Regions from separate parts of the Homo sapiens genome. Here region 2 is linked to region 1. The links come from fine-mapping of genetic effects on gene expression. Tissue or cell type: whole blood. Region 1 holds a variant in brackets; the other region holds the start of a gene. All regions are shown on one strand. Distances are from middle to middle. Region 1 overlaps PTDSS1 (phosphatidylserine synthase 1). Region 2 holds the start of PTDSS1 (phosphatidylserine synthase 1).

Region 1 (5,379 bases):
GCCTGTAATCCTAACACTTTGGGAGGCTGAGGTGGGCAGATCACTTGAGATCAGGAGTTCGAGACCAGCCTGGCCAACATGGTGACACCCCCGTCTCTACAAAAAATACAGAAATTAGCCAGGTGTGGTGGCGGGCGCCTGTAGTCCCAGCTACTCAGGACGCTGAGCCAGGAGAATCGCATGAACCTGGAAGGCGGAGGTTGCCATGAGCCAAGATCGTACCACTGCACTCCAGCCTGGGCAGCAGAGTAAGACTCTGTCTCAAAACCACGGCACTCCAGTCTCGGCAGCAGAGTAAGACTCTGTCTCAAAAAAAAAAAAAGAAAAGAAAAGAAAAAGAAACATGCAAAATGCTCACAGGATCTGAGTGAAAGACTTGGTTTGTAAGAAGAGGCTCCATGTAGCTCTGCCCTTCGTGAGGGCCCCACACCATTTCAAGCACCCTGATGGGAACGTTCTTCCTCTTGGCTTCCATCATGAGTGAACAGGAAGAACTGTATATCCGGCCAGGCACAGTGGCTCACGCCTGTAACCCCAGCGCTTTGGGATGCCATGGCAGGATCATTTGAGGCCAGGTATTTGAGACCAGCATGGGCAACAGAGCAAGACCCTGTCTCTACAAAAATCTTAAAAAATTAGCCAGATGTGGTGGCACATGCCTGTAGTTACAGCTAGTCAGGAGTCAGAGATAGGAGGGTCACTTGAGCCCAGGATCACTCCCATGTGGAAGACAGAACAAGTCCCTGCCTCTTAAAAAAAAAAAAAAAAAAAAAAAAAAAAAAGGTACTGTGTATCAGGAGGAAAAGCCTTTCAAAAGAGGGGGATCATTTTAATGGCATTTATTCAAGAGGCAGGGCAGTGTAAGAGATTTTGGTCGTGTAGTTAGGGAACCTCCACTGGCCTCTAAGGATCACTTTGGGAATATTTGGGGCCACCTGGTTATTTCAAAGAATTAGACTTGTAGAATAATGACATTGAGGTGATTTCATTGGACAGTAATTCCTCGTCAATCCTTATAAGCTACTTGGGAAGCTTGGCTGAAGAAAGAAAATTAGAAATACTAAAGACTGAATTTTAGCTCACAAAATTGCTCAGAGAAACGGTGGGCCAATGGAGAAGAAAGCGCCCTGTTGCAGTCATTCTCCTAAGTTCTTTTGGCATCAGGCTCATTAAAGATCTCCCAGGGGAGACACTAACATACACTCTGCTGAGCTGCTGGCCGCCCTTTTGGGGAAAGTTTCTCCTGAACCACGGAATTGATCAGTGAGCGGCCCGTTGTGAAATCTGATAGAGATGGACAGAGGGGCTCCCCAGCTATCTTATTTAGAACCATGCCCTTACAAACAACCTTGGCACTTACAGGTTCTCCACTGAAGAGAATTAAGCAGTAGTAGAGATGTATTTACTTGATGGAATAATAAAAAAAGAAAAATAACAAAAACAGAAGTCTTCTGAGTGGGGAAAGAATCTCTTAGTCTAAGTCAAATGCTCCTTACAGTGGAGACTGTAACTCTGGTAACTTTTTTTTTGTTGGCAGCCTCAGGTGGAGATTTCCTATGGGGCTGGATCAGAGCCCTGGGGCAGAGAACCCTTTGGCTTGGCCGCTAGGCCAGGCAGGGGCTGAACAAAGGCTCAGCTGGAGGGCAGAGGCTGCCCAGTGCCCTCCATCGTGGGCAGCAGGGGCCTGAATTGTAAAGATGTTCTCCAGATCAAATGTAGAGGGTGTGAAATAGCTCTGATTTTATAGTGTCAAGAGTCTTTCCTGATGTCGGGTTTAGAAGGTGGTGTGGAGCAGGTGAAGGGATGGAAACCCTTGGTTGCAGGGCAGGATGGGCACCGCGTGGTGTGTGTTTTAATTGCCCCTCGTTTGGGCTTCCGTTTCACTTGTGCTCTCACTTCTGGTCCTCACCATCATGACCATGTCCATCATACACAGGACAGATGTACACACGCTTCAGGAACCACCCAGACTTTGGGGCGCTATTGCGTTGAACCCCGCGCCACCGCGTGTGCTCCTTCAGTACTAGTTCTGTGTTTGAGAGCCTCGCCTTCATTTATGAATGAGGCCACTAGGGGGAGTGCACGTATCAGGGAAGAACCTGTTCCCCGGCAAGCCTAGGGCGGTCTGGAAAGGGACAGTCACCAATCTCCAGAGCCCAGGGTGACGGTGTGCTCTGATTCCTTTGGCCAGGTTCTGAAGACAGCCCACCCAAGCATGCAGGCAACAACGAAAGCCATTCTTCCAGGAGAAGGAATCGGCATTCCAAGTCAAAAGTCACCAATGGCGTTGGAAAGAAATGAAAAACCCTGGTTAATCAAAGATGTTCCAGAGTGCCTAGAACTGAGAGGGAAATGGAACTCATTTGGAACTCCCCGTGAGGAGGT[C/T]GAGGCGCACAGGGCAAGCAGGAAGAGGCGAGGGCACTTGGGGGTCATTATTTGAGATCGTAAGTCTTGTTTCCCACAGACCTGGCCGCGTCAGGCAGATCATCGCCTGGGGGGCCTTTGCCAACGTGGGGTCTCTTCTAACTTCAGCACTTGACATGCGGTCACCGGTGGCAGCGCGGTGTGTTGAAGGGAAACGGTAGCTATTCATTCACAGTTGCCAAGAGCAGCTCCGCGCCTGCTGGATCGTGGATGCAGCGTAAACATCTTCCTTCAGACGAGGCATTAACCCCATGGTTAATGGACTGGTCACCAGTTTTTATTTTATTTTTATGAATCTACCTTTCCATTGATTGATTTAAGTTCAGGCCACTTTTCTGTCTTTTATTTGGTTACTGTTGTTATTTGTTTTTAAGTTAGGATGCTTTTTAACAGCCTTTAGAAGCCGCTGCTGAAATTGATACTGGGGGAAGGGTTCCCCTTCCTTCTAGAGCAGAAAAGGGAGAGAGGTGTTGTATTCCTGTTTGGTAACCTCAGTCTCCTGTAAGACCTCCTACCACATGGCGAGTATACACCAATCAGGAGAGGGTAGCTGCCTGCATAGGAGCCTCGCTTCCGATTATTCCCTTCCCAATATTATTCATCCAGACTTAGCCACAGTGCACAAAAGCAAACCTGCTAGAGAGGCAGTGAACACCACAGCTTCTCCCCAGCTAGGTGCCTTTTACATCGGGTTTGTTCTCCTTCCATGGTGTGTTGCTGACATTGTCACTGAGTCCCATGTGAGGTGCTGGTGAGTATTACCTTTCATCTGTGCCATGCTCTAGAACCTTGACCTTGATAGTTCACCACCTCTGATGGATCCCTGTTTTAAATAAAAACGATTCACTTTAAAGCCTATCAAAGGTCTGTCTGTAAAATGCTCATTTTCTTGCATCTTACTGGTATCTTCTATTGATTGTAAGCAGTCTGTGTTTTTCAAGTGACTTTAGGATAATATATATGTGTTTTACATAGTGAGAAGAAAAAAGAAAAGATGTGTATTTTAAAGGGCTTACAGACATATATGTCCTACTTCTTAGACTACCCAAGTGACCAACAGGAATGAACAACATAGTCATTGTTTTTTCCTGTGGTAATGGTTTCCAAGTTGGACTTTTTTTTCCTCTAACAAGAGGCCAGTACCCAGTTGATTAGCTTACAGATATCAACTCACTGAAAGTAATCTTTTGTTCCCTCATTTCACACAGCACAAAGGTTCGTTCTGATGTTTCTTCTTCTTTAAGGAAATCTTTAGCCATAGAAGTGTCACTTTTTTTTTTTCTGCAAAAGAATTCCAAGATGAACGGGTTGAATGAATCATGCCAGCCAGGGTCACATCCTGTCCTCAGGGGGCCCAGTGCTCAATAGTAGATTCTGCGGGAGTGGAGAAGCGTCAGTGGCAGCTCCGCTCACTTGGTGAGTGAGGGATTTGGCTGTGATGAGCCTCAGCTCCGAGCTCTCAAATGTCCTCCAGCCAGCATCTGCCTGCTTCCCACAAAAGGATAGAAGAGAGGCAAAGTGCGTGTTTCATAAAACCTGCCTGCACTTTTATAACCCATCAAAGAGGCCATTTTTAAACACAGGTACAATTTAAACATGATCTTTCTTTGCAAATAAATATGTTTTGTTTCATCCTGTGTTCTGCTTTTCTAAGCATGACATACTTGTGCCCATTGGAGAAGACACCTGTCTCTTCTTTCTCACACCGGTGGTGCCTCACTGAGTGTTTCCGGGTTCATTTTCCGGGAGCACTGGGCCTGACACTTTCACACTCTTCTGACTTTCGCCTTGTTGCAACTGATGGAGCATGTGTGCTTCCTCTGAGGCCAGCCTACAGGAGGCAGCTGTTTCGCAGGTGGTGAATTCGACTTTACTGTGGCATTGTGAAGAGCAGGGTGCACAGGAGATGATTTTTTCTCCATGGCTTTGTAAGAAACAGCCAGGAAAGTTCTCAGATACTTTCCATGCCCTTTCTTTGAGTTGAAACTTTCTATTTCCCTTCAGTCAGAGCTCTTTACTATAGTAGTTACAAAACCAGTGCTTTCCATGGCTGGCCAGAACCACAGCTGCTATTCCTTTTAGAAGCCATACTGCTGGGTTTGGCCTACTTTTTTCACCGTTTCTATGGAAATAAACCTCACATTGATGGAAATAGAATGCGTGTTTCAGAATCATCATTCAATATCTGAAATGATTTGATTGTAAATTATCTCATGGTCCCTGTTTGCAAACCACCCTCTTAAGAGAGAACATTGTTTTGGACCTAAAGCTTGAAGAACGGTTTATGTATTTTTCTCCTTAAGTAGCATTGCATTGAGTGTTAGGTTCTTTTCCCTTTTTTTCATTCTTGGTCTTCCCAAAGCTTCTTCCCACATTTCGTTTGTGTCTGTTTCCACCATTCATAGAAACCTTGGAACCACTCTCACAGCAATGCTAGGATGTTTCATGGACCTGTTAAGCATTTTGATGATACAAGACATCCTATCAATGCCAGTCTTATTTTCGCTAGGACTCTGCTTCCACAGTAAGCTCCTAAGGTGCTCACCCAACCCAGGAGAAAACAAAATTCATTACCAAATACAACAGGTTCAGCCTTCTTGGTCTTCCCTCAGAAGCCACCGTGTAGCACCCTGGAATGATGCCTCTTTATGCCAAGGCCCACCCTTTGGAATTGGGAGGGTTTTGGGTAGAATCCTGCACTTACAGAGGCCCTTGGGGTCATTGAGAAGTGGAGGAGGTTGGACACAGAAGGGGAGGCTAAACACAAGGTGGGGAAGAAAAAATGTAACCATTGGCAGCCAGACTGAAGCTAGCCCTTTAAAATACGGGGTTGGGGGGTTAACATCCGCTCTTTGGAATGTGCTCAGTGACTGCTGCAGAGTTCCTGGGCCACCCTAATGTTTACCAGGTGGGCGTTGTTTATATGGTTCTTATTGTTATGACAACTAGAAATCC
Region 2 (5,379 bases), 72 kb before region 1:
TATATTTAGTCTAAAATAGTGAGATGTTTCTTATGTACAGGAAAAGCCAACAACAAGGCAATCTCAGTTACAAACCAACAGACAGGAACTTCTGAGTGGAAAAATAAAGATATACTTTACAATTTAAAAACAAAATGCAATGACACTGGTGTAAGAAAAATGCTTAAAACAAAAATCTGCAAATGTTCAAGTGACAGCAGACCTCACTAATCTGTTAATTTAATCATTTAAAGAGAATAAGCTGATGCAAATAAGTGTTCTTGAAATTTGGTGTGAAGGGTGTTTCCGCAGCACATTGCTGATCAAAGTAACACTGAATTATTCAAATGCATTTTATGTATATAAATTTGTCCCAAAATGAAAAAACAGAAATCTACTGTGTCCTAAACAAATCATCAAAATATTATCATTGATATACAGAACAGTGAAAGCAGTTTCTTGCTTCATTCTCAGGGCTGAACACTGTTGATTACTTCACAGATAAAGCTGTTCTTCCAAAGGGAATTGAACAAAACCAGTTTTGTCAAGTTTTGTTTCACTGTAGGAAAGGAGAAAAAAGCCTTCAAAAAGAAAAGGTCAAAACTAGTAACAAAACCAAGTGACAGAAATAAATAAGCAACCAGCAATTAATACCTGTATATTTTGACTGAAAAAGTAGTTTTCAAAAATATTTTTATCAGGAAAGGCTAGTGCTATGTTAAACTCCAGGAATATGAAGGGATTTTATATTTAGCCAGCTAATTAGAAAGGTAAATTTGATGCATATAATCTTACGTTAAATAACATTATCCATATAAAACACAGGATGGAGTCAGGATATAAGAAATGCTCAATAAATGTTAGCCATTATTATTGGTTACACAACCAAATACAAAAATTCTGCTGAATTAATTGCTGCCTACAACTTTATACTTTGTTTTTCTGCATACTGGAATTCAGCTTGTTTTATGCTCTAAATTAGACCAAATACTTGAGGGTCTAATCTTTTCTTGGAGATCTGTAGTTTTGGGAAGTTTGCTGAAAGAGATTTTACAAAAGTGAAAGTTTCCTTTCATTCTGCAATTATTTATTATTATTATTATTATTATTTTTTTTGAGACGGAGTTTCGCCCTTGTTGCCCAGGCTGGAGTACAACGGCACCATCTTGGCTCACTGCAACCTCTGCCTCCCAGGTTCAAGTGATTCTCCTGCCTCAGCCTCCCGAGTAGCTGGGATTACCCACGCCCGCTACTATGCCCGGCTAATTTTTTGTGTTTTTAGTAGAGACGGGGTTTCACCATCTTGGCCAGGCTGGCCTCGAACTCCTTACCTCAGGTGATCCACCCAGCTTCCCAAAGTGCTGGGATTACAGGCGTGAGCCACTGCGCTCGGCCCATTCTGCGATGATTTTAGAAAAGAAGTAAGTATTCACAATACCCTGCTGGGATAGGTGGTTTCTGTTAGATTTTGGTGGGAAATGGGACTCCAAATGTGCCAAGTTTTCCCTCAAACCTACAACATTCATTCTCTGCACGGTAGTCATAAGGGCACTAAATTGAAAGTCAGAAGACCTCGGTTGTGCTACCTTGACAAGGCTGTTTCTGGCAGCAGTCTAACAAAAGCAGCAGTCTAGCCCATGATGTGGGGGGTGGGGGTGGGGTCAATAACTATTCTTCAAATAATGCTTTTTTAAAAGGCTAGGGGTACAATAAGATGATTCTTAAGGCCCCTATCAGCTCTAACATTTTTTGACGTCTAAGCACTTCATCCTACTTCAAACTCCTGAAATCCCAAATTCATCCTGAAGCCTTTCCACACTCAATACCACTTAAACATCAGGAAGACTCACTTTCAAATTTCACCCCGTCATTAAAAGATCTTTGTGCATACAACTAATGTTTATCCTTGCATTTTTATTTACAAGTGCACTATCTTCTCCACATCCTTTCATTGCTGCCTACACATCTTAACAATTGATTAACTGTTCATGCACGAGAGCAGAGCTGGGTCTCATCCCTGGATCCATCCTTCCGGGGACTATTCTCCACTTTCCCAGAGCCTTGTACTGCTCTAATGTTTGCGGAATGGAAATAAATCAATGGCAAGTACAGTTAACTCACTTGCTTACACAGTATGCAAAAGCGGGTAGGGGATGTGCAGATGTGTATAAAAGCCCTGTAAGGTGGTAACCTGAAGTCTTCTAACAAGGTCCTTTCATCAGGAAAATTACAGAAAACCCTTAAAGAAACTGAAGTCTCTTAACAATTCATATATACTGTTCTCAATGAGTGCCTAGTGCTTCGCTAGAAAAAGGCACTGAAATAGAGTTCAAGATTTCTACCTACGAAATGCTATAAATGAAATCAGGAGAGAAAGGGAGGTTATGGGGGCAGCTTCCTAATAAAGGGTCTCTCAATACTTCCCAGGCCATTTTAGCCCACTTCAGTTCCCCAAACTTGCGCAGGAAGGCAGAGCCCCCTCCTGAGGCTTCTCACACTGCGCTAATTAGCCAGCATGGTTGAGTTTTCACTACATCAGCCAGGGAAAAACACAAAACAAAACCAATCACCCTCTACTGGGCCGCGAAAACCTAAAGGCCCTTGAGGCCCTGGGGCGCGGTCTGGACGCGGGTGCGCCGGAACCTGAACCCTCGCCAGGAGCGCGATCCTCGTGCTGGGGCAGCTCCTGCTTTACCTGTGGCGAGGCCTGCTTCCCGTAGCGGGTGACCCCGGGACCGACCAACTCGCTGGGCCGCACGTCCCGTCCCGCCGCGCCGCACGCCGGCTCCTCAGCCCGCCCTACACAGCGCAGCCGCGCTCCCGGGCCCACGTGGGCCGCGCCCGGAGTGGGCGAGACCATGTGCCGGGTTACGCGGGGAGACAGCGGGCTACGTGCTCTGAAAAGAGCCAGCCAGGGGCCCCGGCTACCCTTCTCCGGCTCGCTATTCCTCTGAAGTCCTGTGGACTTGGAGTCTGAAAATTCCTCGAGTGGTAGAGATGCCTCAGCTAGGATGACAGCGTGGGGACGGCCGGCGGCGTCCCCTGCCCCAGGCCGCGGTGGCGGCGCCGCGACCCCGCCCTCTCGCGCCTGTCCTTCCCTCTGCTCCCAGCCTTTGCTGGGCGCCAGACCCGGCTTTGCCGTCCGGCTATTAGCCTACTGTGGCTAGTCACCCCCGGGGTCCCGGCCTTCTCGGGCTGGGGCCGCCGCCACCGCGGCAGGACGGGGAGGCGGGCCATGGCGTCCTGCGTGGGGAGCCGGACCCTAAGCAAGGATGATGTGAACTACAAAATGCATTTCCGGATGATCAACGAGCAGCAAGTGGAGGACATCACCATTGACTTCTTCTACCGGCCGCATACCATCACCCTGCTCAGCTTCACCATCGTCAGCCTCATGTACTTCGCCTTTACCAGGTGGGGCGGCCCAGCCGAGCGGGGGGCGCGTCCAAGGGCTAGGGAAGAGGCGGGAGGGAGGGTGGCGGGGAGGGGGGCCCGGCATGGCTCTGGGTGAGGAAGTGGGCTGGCTGCTCCACGCACACGCACTGGCAGCCCGCCGCCCACGCGGCCCCTCCGCCCGCCCGGTGTCTCACAGTACGCTAGCCTGCTCCCCTACCCCTCAGTGCCCCTTCTCCATACAGCGCCTCCGGTTACACGGGGAACGCACGCGAGTCACCTAGCACGATCGCCCCCTCACCCACCGCACTCAGCATCGCTCCACACAACATCACGACGCGGGCCCCTCCTCTGCACTGCTCCAGCCTTCGTCCCTACCCAGCACACCGCATGAATCATGTCGTATGCACCACTTTCAGCACACACCGCTACACATACAAAGCACCCCAATCCACAGCGCCTGCAGGCACCATACACAGGCCCAGGACACAACCTAGATCCCTTCCTGTGGAACTCCGGTATTCGGCACTATCCGTAACGCACAAAAAATGCACATGTGTGCTGCATACACGGTCTTTCCTGTGCAGCACTTCCCGTATGCATTGCACACAAGTCATCCAGCATAACACTTCCCCCAGCCTCAAACACTACCATCTGTACCACGGCACAAACTGCCACTCTAAACACACACCTCACAGCGGACCTTTCCTTTCCAGCACAGCCCAATACCCATCATCTGTGTACATGGCTGCACAGACACCAGCCCGCCACACATCACGCGGTGCATACCCTGCTCACTCATTACCTAACATACGTGCTGAAATGTGATCTTGTCCAGCAATTTTAATGGTGCCTGGGGTATAGTAACTGCTGTGTGTTAAATGAAACACATAAACCTCACACAGCATAACACAACTCTCTTATTCCCTGGAAAACATACACACACATTCTAATATATACCGGTTCATAGGAGCTGCCCAGCCCAAATCTTGAACACACCTCATGTTAACTCTGGCACTGCGCCTGTGGCTCCTCATTCCTAACCTAGAGAACTAATTCATCCTTGGTTCATAAGGAGGTACACACCGTGGTTCCTACTTAGAATGATTTATACTTTCTGAATGAACCTCTTTAAAGAAAGGGAAGTCACACCTCTCTCACCATTATGGCTTAAAAGGCCAACTTAGAGTAGAGTAGTTTTTGAGCCACACTTTTGGTTTCAAAACTGGCTGTGTGTCCTTAATTAAGTTGCATAACCTTGCTCTGAGCCTCAGGGGCCACACTCGTAAAATGGGGATGAAATATCTACTTATATAGGGTTATGAAAATTAAATGAATGTGTGTGAATGCATTTAGCAGAGTCCCTGGAGCACAATGTACAATTCATGTCAGTTACTTCTCTCCCAGTATTTTTATCCAACAATCAAGGTTCTCTGTCAGGGTCAGCAGAACATGTGTAGGGATATATATATTGGGTAGTCACAAGGATTGAGAGAACTTCTAGTATTTGGGAGGGGGAGCAGTTAACGGATACTAAATGTATTGTGACATATGTGACAGCGCTGTACAACATAAAGGGAATTGTCTTCTACACAGTCGTTTGCATACACACACACAAGTGCCGGTGGTGCCTCCCTTAGGAATAACTGCAGTTTTTCAAATCCTCATAAAACTAATATCCTCCCACATCACACTTGTTCCTTACCTCTGGGATTCATTTGACTCTTGGTTCTTGTTATGTAAGTGTTTATCCATTTGAAAGAATCTACCTAAAGGTATAAAGCTTAAGTAACAATTGCTTACTCTTTAATGATTGAGGGATCTTGCCACTATTACTATAAAATCTGCTAAAGCTGTGCAGCAGGTGAAGACCAGACCTTTCCACAGTACCTGACCAGACATATTTCTAGCTTTGGAGAGAAATGAATCATGTCCCTAACTATGGTTACTTTCAAATACTTCATTATGTTGCCTGATTTTATCACTTAATAGCTGTGTGGCCACATA

The links.
Region 2: it holds the start of PTDSS1, and the variant in region 1 is fine-mapped to the expression of PTDSS1 in whole blood (TOPMed, PIP above 0.99).

The regions. Positions count from the first base shown.
Region 1 is chr8:96,331,266-96,336,644 of GRCh38, forward strand. It overlaps PTDSS1 (phosphatidylserine synthase 1), which reads left to right. Exons shown (of 13, transcript NM_014754.3): 13 at 2,192-5,379. The coding sequence ends at 2,301. Among named protein-coding and RNA genes, the nearest start is that of PTDSS1, 72 kb to the left of the region's middle. The variant C/T (reference allele first, on the strand shown) is at 2,386.
Region 2 is chr8:96,258,827-96,264,205 of GRCh38, forward strand. PTDSS1 (phosphatidylserine synthase 1) reads left to right here and starts at 3,076. Exons shown (of 13, transcript NM_014754.3): 1 at 3,076-3,393. The coding sequence starts at 3,215. MTERF3 (mitochondrial transcription termination factor 3) reads right to left here and starts at 2,784. Exons shown (of 8, transcript NM_015942.5): 1 at 2,675-2,784. RefSeq lists enhancers at 1,537-2,230, 2,382-2,441, 2,924-3,616, 3,762-4,001 and silencers at 2,605-2,929, 2,682-2,831, 3,012-3,381, 3,432-3,611.